Linked DNA regions of Homo sapiens. The protein of the gene in region 3 purifies or fractionates together with the protein of the main gene of each other region. This does not show direct contact. Each region holds a gene or a part of one and is shown on either strand. Other genes may lie near its edges. The genes, in order: MAP7, KCTD13 and OBI1.

The links.
Region 1: the proteins of OBI1 (region 3) and MAP7 purify together in Homo sapiens (affinity purification with mass spectrometry, with the first as the bait; one large-scale study listed by BioGRID). This does not show direct contact.
Region 2: the proteins of OBI1 (region 3) and KCTD13 purify together in Homo sapiens (co-immunoprecipitation; one large-scale study listed by IntAct). This does not show direct contact.

The regions. Positions count from the first base shown.
Region 1 is NC_000006.12:136,347,907-136,351,560, reverse strand, and holds part of MAP7 (ensconsin), read left to right. Parts: intron 1-3,654. UniProt on the Homo sapiens protein: Microtubule-stabilizing protein that may play an important role during reorganization of microtubules during polarization and differentiation of epithelial cells. Associates with microtubules in a dynamic manner.
Region 2 is NC_000016.10:29,912,614-29,916,267, forward strand, and holds part of KCTD13 (BTB/POZ domain-containing adapter for CUL3-mediated RhoA degradation protein 1), read right to left. Parts: intron 1-3,654. UniProt on the Homo sapiens protein: Substrate-specific adapter of a BCR (BTB-CUL3-RBX1) E3 ubiquitin-protein ligase complex required for synaptic transmission.
Region 3 is NC_000013.11:78,649,055-78,652,708, forward strand, and holds part of OBI1 (ORC ubiquitin ligase 1), read right to left. Parts: intron 1-3,654. UniProt on the Homo sapiens protein: E3 ubiquitin ligase essential for DNA replication origin activation during S phase.

The DNA.
Region 1 (3,654 bases), on a different chromosome or scaffold from region 3:
GTTCAGCAACTGTGGGGTTAACCTACTTAATTAAACCTTAGTTTTCTCATCTGGACATGGAGATACTTTCCACACAAAGTATTGGGAGGTTCAGTGAAATGCTATCTGTGAAGGAGTTCCAAAAACTGTTGTACTATATGAATGTTACATATCATTATCTTTATCCTCCTAAAATGAATGCAGTGTCCAGAAAACACACAGTACACTAGGTGTAGCTGCAGTGTGATGTAAAATAATGCTTTTGGTTTGTTCCTGGTATCCCATCTTCTCCTGCCTAGCATTTTATTGGCTTTTTTTTGTTTTTTCGTTTTTTTTTTTTTTTTTACCATCAAAACACAAGGAGTCAGTATCACCAAGGAACAGTTTGCAGTGATCCCAAGATGTCTTAACCTCCATTGTGACTGATCATTCACTGTCTTTTAAGGATAGCTCAGCTGACAGTTTTCTAAACCCACTGCTTTTACAGACTGCCTGCCTTGTCACTCATTTCATGATTTTCCCTGTTTTCTCGAGGGGCTATTTTTATGACTTGCATTTCCAAGAATAAACATTATCTGCATACTTAAATTTTATCCTGCTTGTCTTCCGATTATTATAAAACTAAACCTAGCACTGATCCCTGGGGCTCTCTGCCACTTAAACTCTTCCATCTAGAGAAGGGCTTGCTTATTCCTGTCTTTATTTTGTTTTATTTTTATTTTATAAAACAGAGTCTTGCTCTGTCACCAAGCCTGGAGTGCAGTGGTACGAGCATGGCTCACTGCAGCCTCTACCTCCTGGCTCAAATGATCCTCCCACCCCAGCCTCCTGAGTAGCTGGGACTACAGGTGCGAGCCACCACACCCAGCTAATTTAAAACATATATATTTTTATAGAGATTAGGTCTCCCTGTGTTGCCCAGGCTAGTCTCAAACTCTTGGCCTCTGGCCTTAAGCAGTCATCCCACCTTGGCCTCCTGAAGTGTTGGGATTACAGGCGTGAGTCACCACGCCCAGCCTATTCTTGTCTTTAAAATCCATCCCCAAAACAGCTTCCCATTCATGAATAAACATTCCCTTTGATGCAGTGGAAACTCAGGTTTTTAAACAGTTTTACATCTGAAATTCTGTTAAAAACTTTAAATGACAAATCACATCCATAAATATTTCCTTTCACTCCTAGTTTCAAATCAACCTTAAAATGCTTATAAAATCTTTGGTTTTCATCTCAGTGCATTATTTTTAGTGAGGCATTCCATGATCCTTGTGATCAGTCAGTATCTTTATTAAATACCCTACTTTGCACCTCAAGTAGAGTTATAGATCCCTCCAGCTTGCCCACTGTGAATTAAATCACTGATTAATGGAAATGCTCGGGGTCCCTGCCAAAGAACATGGTGTGCCTGATACTCCATGAAAATCCATCATGACAGATCATGCAAGTATAGTGGTAGAATTTATTTTTGCTAGAAAACTCCACTGCTCAGAATGACTATCTTTTCATTCAAATTGAGAGAGAAGTATCACTTTTCCTAATGTCTTTAGTACCTAATATATTCGTAAATAAATGAATGCTGTGAACTAAATTACATTTGCTCCTCCCCACCTTGAGATATTTCAGCAAACTGTCTAGCAGCACCCCAGGAGGATGGCGACCCCCTAACATTACTTTTCCTAGCAGCTAGGACTGAGACCCTTTGTTATAGAACAACTCTGTACCAGAAGTATCCTGAACCCTACTCCTCACCTTACTCCTGAGTGAGACGCCTGGCCCCTTTGCCCCAAAGCCATTTTTCTTGCCCATCTCTTTTCCCCCTGACAGGTTCCCCACTGACATTAGTTAGAATGGAAGAGGGTTTGAGTTATCACAATTCTGGCCAGATTTTAAAGGTATACAGAAATATGTGAATATGCCAAGTGTGGTGGCTCACGCCTGTAATCCCAGCACTTTAGCAGGTCTAGGCAAGCAGATCACTTGAGCCCAGGAGTTCAAGACCAGCTAGCAACATGGCAAGATCCCGTCTCTACAAAAAATACAAAGATCAGCCGAGGGCAGTGGCATGCATCTGTAGTCCCAGATACGCGGGAGGCTGAGGCGGGAGGATCGCCTGAGCCCAGGGAATTGAAGCTGCAGTAAGCCGTGATTGCACCACTGCACTCCAGCTTGGGCAACAGAGTGAGACCCTGTCTCAAAGAAATATATGAATATATATTAATAACATATATGGATTTTATAAAATTTTATAAATGAATATATACATTTTCCTATGTAAGATATACGACGTTTATAAAATACTTGAAATATATCTTTATGAAATATATGAATATTATATATGCCCTTGAGCTGATCATTCTTACTCAAAAGCCATGTTTGGTTCTTAAGAGAGAGTACTTGTGGAGGGATGTTCCACAGGAATTGAGGAAAATATTTGTCCATGGATAGGAAACTTGCTTTGGAACAGGAAACAAAGGATACGGATCCATATGAATACAAGTCGGGGAGGACAGGGGTGAATATCAGAATGGGAACAGAGGAAGTTATCTGCAGTTTCTCAGGTCATTCTGAGATGTTCTTCTACCCCTAGCTGAGAATCTCTAGTCCAGAGGCTAAGAAGCTCTGCTGCCTATACAGATACTGCCTTACCCTCCTAATACTCCAGAAGACATTTCATGTTTGTTCATTGCCGTAGGGGAGCTGTCTTTTCGTAGAATGTTCGTCTTTTTTTTTAAATAAGAAGTTTTTGGTAATTTTGGTGTTTGACCCATTCATTTTCCCTCCAAATCTTGAGTTCATCATTGCTCTTAGTTTGGCCTGAAGGAAAAGTAACATTCCCAGGCCCCTATTGTTCACACAGGAAGAGATGTATCCCTTTTAATTTAAAAGTTACTTGTTTTAACATAATTAATAAATATCAAGAGAAAATAAGGTTCTGGCTTCCATAAGCTGTGTGGACTGCAGATTCTTGCCAAGGTCCCAACCCCTGCCTGTACACATTTTGGACTGGAGCAAAGCGTGCGGTCTTCAAAAGTCTTACATCAGTCTTCAAACTTCAGAAGGTAACTGAAGGCAGGGAATTCAGAAGCTGGTGCTCTTATTCTGAGTGGACACACGGATCCATACTCCTTAACCCCAGTACTTCAGTTTCAGTTTTATAGTTTCTACCAGTCCCGATGTCCCCTGAACATTTCATGACTTGTCATCCAATGCATATGGCACAATTATCCCTCTGATTGCCAGCAGGTAGAATGGGCAGGTGGAGGGGAAATGAAATCTGATACTGGCTCAAGTCTGGGGTTAGCCATTGCCATTATGACTTGTTAGTACATGCAGGCCTGGAAGGTGACAGGTTAAGGTTGCCAAGGAAAGGGGGCTCTGGAGATACGTTCCTGTTCTTTATCCTTTGCCAGGACTTCTACTTAAATTCTCTCTGTATTAAGAACCAAAATTGTTTCCCTAGTTACAGAAAGGCTGTTGGTGTTAGGCAAGAACAGGAAGATGGGTGTGGCAGCCCAGGCACTTAGAACAGTAGATGTTAGGCATGTGTGTGCACACGTGACTTGGGGGGGGGGGCATGTGCACATGTGTGTGACTGTACTCTTGTGGAGACTTATAATGCCTAGTGGCATTCCCTTCCCTTCTTAGTAAAATAGCAGAAAAGCATCATCACACTGTATA
Region 2 (3,654 bases), on a different chromosome or scaffold from region 3:
ATTTTTAGTAGAGACGAGGTTTCTCCATGTTGGTCAGGCTGGTCATGAACTCCCGAACTCAGGTGATCAGCCCGCCTCAGCCTCCCAAAGTGCTGGGATTACAGGCGTGAGCCACTGCACCAGGCCTATCAGTTCATTTTCTACACAGCAGTTAGTGTCTGACTTTTTCTAACTTTTTGTATTTGTTTATGATCTGTCTCTTCCCACCTAGGAATAACTACCTAGTATACAGCTGATGCTCTGTATTTGTTGAATGAATGAACATATTTGTTGAGTGAATGAACTTCATTGGGTGGGATGACGTTGGAGAAAGAAATCTGAAGCAAACCCATGGGCTTCTTTCTCTTCTGTCTTCTAGAATCTTCATGCCAAAATCCCTCTCACTTCTCCCAACCTTGAAAACTCAATGCGCAATTCTAATACAAATTCCAGATTTGTTTTTTGCAGAAACTCATAAGACTCTCTAAAATTAACAGAGAATAATAAAAGTCTACAATTACTGAGGCCATTTTTTTTTTTTTTTTTTTTTTGAGACAGGGTCTTGCTGTCATCCAGGCTGAGTGCAGTGGCATGACCACAGCTTACAGCAGCCTTGACCTCCTGGGCTCAAGCCATCCTCCCAAACTTAGGTCAGTTTTTAAAAATAAGAGCAAAGAGGAAAGGCCGACCCTGCCAGATATTAAGATAGGCTGCAAAGCCACAACAGTGAGAACGGTATCAGTTCGGGCACAGAAACAAAAATACCTGAGAAACACAACAGAGCGATCAGAAACAGACCACTGTGTATATGAGAATTGGTATTTTTAAAAAGACACCACAAATGTGCGAGGGGAATTACGGAGTATGAATTCGTTATCTATCACTGTGTAACAAACTGCCCCCAATTTAGGAGCTTAAATTAACAATATTTATTACTTCTGTTTCTGAGGGTCAGGATCTCAGCAGTGGCTCGGCTGGGTGGCTCCGGCACAGGGTCTCTTCTGAGGCTGTGGCCAAGATGTCAGTGGGGCTGTGGGCATCAAAGGCATGACCGCCCCTAGAGGATGCACTCTGAGAAAGCTTGTTCATGTGGCTGGCAAGTTCGCACTAGCTGCTGGCAGGAAACAACAAATCCCTGCCATGTAGATCTCTCCACAGGGTTGCTTGAGTATCCTCGCAGCATGGCAACTGGCTTCTCCAGAGCAAATAATTCCAGAGAGGGCAAGGTGGAAGCCTCATTGTCTTTTTTATTTTTGAGATGGAGTCTCACTGTGTCGCCCAGGCTGGAGTGCAGTGGCGTAATATCGGCTCACTGCAACCTCCGCCTCCCAGGTTCAAGTGATTTTCCTGCCTCAACCACCCAAGTAGCTGGGATTACCGAGGTGTGCCATCACGCCCAGCTAATTTTTGTATTTTTAGTAGAGACAGGGTTTCACCATGTTGGCCAGGCTGGTCTCAAACTCCCGACCTCAGGTGATCCACTCGCCTCAGCCTCCCAAAGTGCTGGGATTACAGACGTGAGCCACAGCGCCGGGCCCCTCCATTGTCTTTTATGACCTAGGTCTGTTGGTCCTATCCAGTGAGGAAGGAGATGACACACAGGAACGAGCACCAGGGGACGAGAATCATCAGGCTGCCTTGGTGGCTGGCTCCACAGGCCACCGCTGGCTCTCAGTGATTTCCCCCCTCCCACATGCCAAATATACTCACCACCTTCCAGGATCCCCCATCATCCCATTACAGCATCAGCTCAAAGTACAGAATCTCATCATCTCAGTCAGGTCCAGGTGGGGATGTGGCTCTAGCATGCAGTTCCGTAACTATGGCTCCTTAAGTGCATTTCTTTTTTTTTTTTTTTTTTGAAATGGAGTCTTGCTCTGTCTCCCAAGCTGAAGTGCAGAGCCACCACCATCTCACCTCACTGAAAACTCTGCTTCCCAGGTTCAAGTGATTCTCTTGCCTCAGCATCCCAAGTAGCTGGGACTACAGGCATGCACCACCATCCCAGCTAATTTTCTTTAGTAGAGACGGGATTTCACCATGTTGGCCAGGCTCGTCTTTAACTCCTGACCTCAGGTGATCCACTTGCCTTGGCCTCCCAAAGTGTTGGGATTACAGGCGTGAGCCACCGCATCCAGCCCTTAAGTGCATTTCCTATCTGCAGACCTGTGAGCTAAAGAGACAGGTCATCTCCACACTCCCAGTGTGCAGTGGTAGAGGCAGGCACAGGATAACCAGTAAGGACATTCTTGCTCAAAAGCAGGGGAAGCCGGGCGTGGTAGCGTGTGCCTGTCATCCCAGCTACTCAGGAGGCCAAGGTGGGAGGATTACTTGAGCCCAGGAGTTCGAGACCAGCCTGGGCAACATAGCAAGACTCTGTCTCAAAAAAAAAAAAAAGTGGGGCAGGGGACAGGAGGCACATATAAGTCATACATATAAGTCACTGGTGTGTGGAAATTCTGTAATCCAGTTGGAGAAATGCTAGGAACTCTTTGATGCCTACTCCTGTTCATGAATGATTCTCCATGGCTCTCCCTGAGTCGTCCCACCTCTTCCATGAAAGATGTTTGCAGCTCCACAGTTTCATCTGCCTGCTTCCTGCCTGTAAAAGTTTGGGTGTGCAAAGCCGTCTTGTCCTTTTGCACTGGCTCTGTCCCTTTCAGTCCAAGCTGGCAGTGTCTCTGCCAATATAATTCTCTTCATAACTTATTGGGTATCTTGCATGTCTTAGGGTTCACTACATTAGAAAAAAGCCACACCTAGAAATCTCTGCAAGTGGCCAGGCACAGTGGCTCACGCCTGTAATCCCAGCACTTTGGGAGGCCGAGGTGGGTGGATCACCTGAGGTCAGGAGTTTGAGACTAGCCTGACCAACATGGTGAAACCCCATCTCTACTAAAAATACAAAAATTAGCTGGGCGTGGTGGTGGGCACCTGTAATCGCAGCTACTCAGGAGGCTGAGACAGGAGAATCACTTGAACCCAGGAGGAGGAGGTTGCAGTGAGCTATCTCAAAAAAAAAAAAAAGAAAAGAAAAAGAAAAAAGAAAATCTCTGCAAGGTAAGCCCTTCTCTACTTTGGGCTTGTGCTGAGACGCTGAAAGACAACACCTTTAACCTTCTCAGAAGCGTGATTATTATTTCATTCGACTGGAAGTCCCCTCTGAGGCATCTTGTTGGTATTTCTGAGGTCTTAACAAAGGACTTTTTCATCACATCCTCAGCTTGACCTTTAGACCACATTTCCCTGTATTTAATGCCTTGTATTTAATCTTTGCACGGAAGCCATTTGTTAATTTTAACATCACTTGTTATCTGGAAAGGCTGGGAATTTTCAAACCCAACAATTTCAGGCTCTTTTTCATTTAAGTGTTTTTTTTCTTTAACTTACTCTCTCCTCTTCAGTTTTACTATAAGCAGCAAGAAGCCAGGTGGCACCTTCAACATTCTGTCTGGAAAGCTCCTTAGCTAGACCATCCGTTCCTTAGGTATATTTCCTACCCTCCACACTAATGCAGGAGACAGTGTTGCTAAACTTTCTGCCGCTACACAAGGATCTCCTTTCCATCAGTTTCCAATAGCATTTTCCTAACTGTTCTTCAAGCCCTTATTGCAGCTGTCTTAAAGGTCACTGGACTCTTATTAACAGACTTTCTCACCTTTTTTCTTTTAATTT
Region 3 (3,654 bases):
AGCAGATTTCGCACAAGGTAAAAATCAAGAATTCTGTTTTAGCCATGCTAAATTTGTGATGCTAAGCCCATTTTTAAGTGGACAAGTTCAACAAGGCAGGTTTTGAGTCACTGCCATAAAAGACATGAGCATATAAGGCCATAGGACTGGAGGAGATCTCATGAATGGACAAAACAGCTGGAGAAAAGAAGGCACTCCAGCAAGCAAAGGAAGAGGAAGAGCAACCAGCAGAGGAAACTGACAAGGAGGGGTCCTGTGATGTAGGAAAGGAGAATATGATATCACAGAAGTCAAGGCAAGAAAGTTTTTCAAGAGAGAGGCAGCGGCCAGATAAGTAAAATATTGATGTGAGATTGAGTTTGATGTGCACTGAGATGTGACTATGGGATTTAACTGCTTGGAAGTCACTCTGATCAGTTACCGACAAGCACTGTTTCAGCGAATGTTGGGGATGGAAACCTGACTGGAGGTTGAGAGACAATGAAAGATGAAGAAGTGAAGACAGAAAATACAGACAATTCTTTCATGTTTTGCTGTAAAGGAGAGAGCATAAAAATGAGACGACGGTTAGGAATACCAATGGGAATGATAAAGAGAGGATATTAGTGATGGATGAAGAGTGATGGGGGTATTACAGCGATAGGCAACAAAGTCCCTAAGAAGTCAAGAGGGGAAAGGGATCCAAAGCACAAAAGGAGATTTTGGCACATACAGGAGTGAGGGTTTGTCTTCTTTTGCAACAGAAGGGAAAATAGGGGGTGTGTGAACAAACACAAAGGGGTTGGAAGATCTGTGGATGGAAAAATGAGGAAATTCATGTTCCCACTATCTCAGCTGCTTATCTTTTGTCATCAAATATGAGGTGAAGTTATCAGCTGAAAACGAGAAGGGAAGTGGGTTACAGATTTGAGAAGACAGGAGAATAAAGCAGTAATTTTGAAAAGTGAGAAAGCTAATTTACTAGGGATAGGTAGCAGATTGCTATACATTGTTGAGTTCCTTTTCCAGGTCTGTGGTTTCTAATGCAAAGTAAGATTAATTAACGTAGGTGTGTATTTTTCTTATCAATATTTAGCTGTGGAGACTCAGGAAGGAAGTAGATGAGTAGTTTGGTTTACCCAGAGTTGGGGTTTTGCCAAGGAGGAAGAGACAGGGACTGATGATAACAAATGACCACGAATAATAAGGGAAACAAGTACACAAGCGGTAATGATAACAGTGAAAAAGTGATAGGGTCAACAAAAATGTCTCCATGAGGTTGAAGTAATGGTAGAGAATAAGTATGATAGAAACAGGATCAGAGAGTGGGATGCTTATAGTCAAGATACTAAAGGTGGTATAACTGCCTTCTCTAATGTTTTGTTCTGGGCCATCTTATCTGATGTGTTCTATTTTCTCTCTCAATCTCATGTGTCACATGGCATTAACATCTATTCTATGCTGACAACTCCCAAGTCTCCCTCTGTAACTGGAGTCAGTAAGTGGCAGAGCTTAGGCTCTGACAGACAAACCTGGGGCCAACTCCAGTTCTGCCATTTATTGAGCAGTCTGACCTTGGGTAAGCCCTTTAGCTACTGTGGGCATCAGTTTCTGCCTCTGAAAACTGTGGCTTAACCTAGTAACCTTTTCATTCAGGTTTAAGATAATATAATGGATGTCAGCACAGACACTTCTACATAGCAATCCCTCAAAAAAAAAAAAAAAGGTAATATTACTATATCCAAGTGCCTAGGAGCCGACTACATATAAGGATCCTGCAGCTGCCTCAACCATAATTTGGCCTCCACTACACACTTGCTCCTCTTCCTGCACACCCTCCCACCTAAGTTAATGAGATCACTACTTCTCCACTTGAGCTACAACAGAGCTATCTCTGAATCACTCTTTTTACTTATCCTCACCATCCAAACTGTCACCAGACGCTGGTATTATACATTAAGTCTAAGAAGCCACAGATTTGAAGATTCACCAATATTTTATGTATCACTAAGAATGAAAAACTGTCAATTACAATTGTTAAGATACAATCAGATTCCAGAGATGTTATAATTTGAAAAAAAATGTACATCTCAGAATAGTCAAAACATGACAAATCTACCTCCAAACATTCTTTCACCTCTCATCTATCCTTTCCTTTGCATCTTCACCCCAATGAATTTAAGGTTCTCATTCTTTTGTCTTTGATCTACTGCAATGACCACCTCCCAAGCTTCCAAATGTTCATTTCAGTACATCTTTCACAATGATGCCAGAGCTACCTTCCTAAAATATGAATAAGCAGCTTTCACTCCTCTCCTACAAAACAGTAATGATTTTTTTCCTGCTCATAGTTCGAGGTATAGCCTTCAAAGAACATAATCTAATTCTTAAACAGCCATTTCCCTTGACCTACCATTTCAATATTTGACACAATGCACACTTCAACCTCACAGGTCTACTTATGTTCACCAATAAGAATATGAACACTGGGGGCTCCCTGTTTATGGGGCTCCCTATTTATAGAGCTTCCATTTCTCAGCTTGATATATCCTCCTGGTCTCTCCATCCTCCTGACAGTAATAAAAAAAAAATTCCTTCCCTCCTTTTAAGATGCAAATAAAATGCCACCTCCTCTGCAAGCCCTTCATTAATCTTTTTCAGAATTAACCAAGTCTTTGATAGGGCACTCTCTGTTCATTTATTTAATGTTCACCTCTTTCTGCATTGTGCTGTACTTAGAAACTGCTTACATCCTGTCTTCCTTATTAGATTTCAGGCTCACTGACAATAGGGTGAGTGTCCTTCTCATCTCTAACAACTGCAAGATTAATAAAAGTGAATTTTGATGTACTATAATGAAAGGCTGAGATAACAATCCTAAAAGTGCTTCAAGCAGCAAAAGGTCAACAGCCACTGTCAAACTGTAAAAAAGCAAAAGTTTAACCTCCCCATTTAATATGACAAAATGATACAGAACCACCACCACAGGCCGACTGCTTGGCTCTGTCTGCTAAGAGTCATTAACAATGTCACCCACAGGAAAGTTTTCTGCACCTTTGGATACCTGGTATTATCACCACCTTTGTGTTGGGAAGATTTCGGAAACAGGTGACTAATTCATTTCTTTGGAAATGAATATTGGAATGAGTATTTATCAGATGATGATTTCTAGACAACTCAATGAATTTATCTTACGAGAATAGAAATTTCTAAAGAACTACTAAAACAAGTTACTTGTTATATATTTGACTGTAATCTGTGGTAGCAAAACACAAAGAATCTAGCACCCATCCTCTTCTACCCAGATCCTGCTCTGGGTAGAACAAAACACACACATAATTTTCTTTAATAAGATCTTCCCAAGACAAAAAAAAAAAGGTCATCATTTGTCACATTATTAGACTTTCTATCCAATTTACTCTCAAATGAGACCCGTGGCAATAAAACAGTACTCATGAAATAAAAATGCAAGACAAAAAAATGGCAATGGTAAGTGACATACAATTCCAAACTCATCTGGAGTAAGCATAGTAAAGTGGTATCCTAGGGAGCGGTCCCCAACCTTTTTGGCACTAGGGACTGGTTTCGTGGAAGATAATTTTTCCACAGACTGGGGGGTTTCACCTCAGAACATCAGGCATTAGACTCTCCTAAGGAGCACACAATCTAGATCCC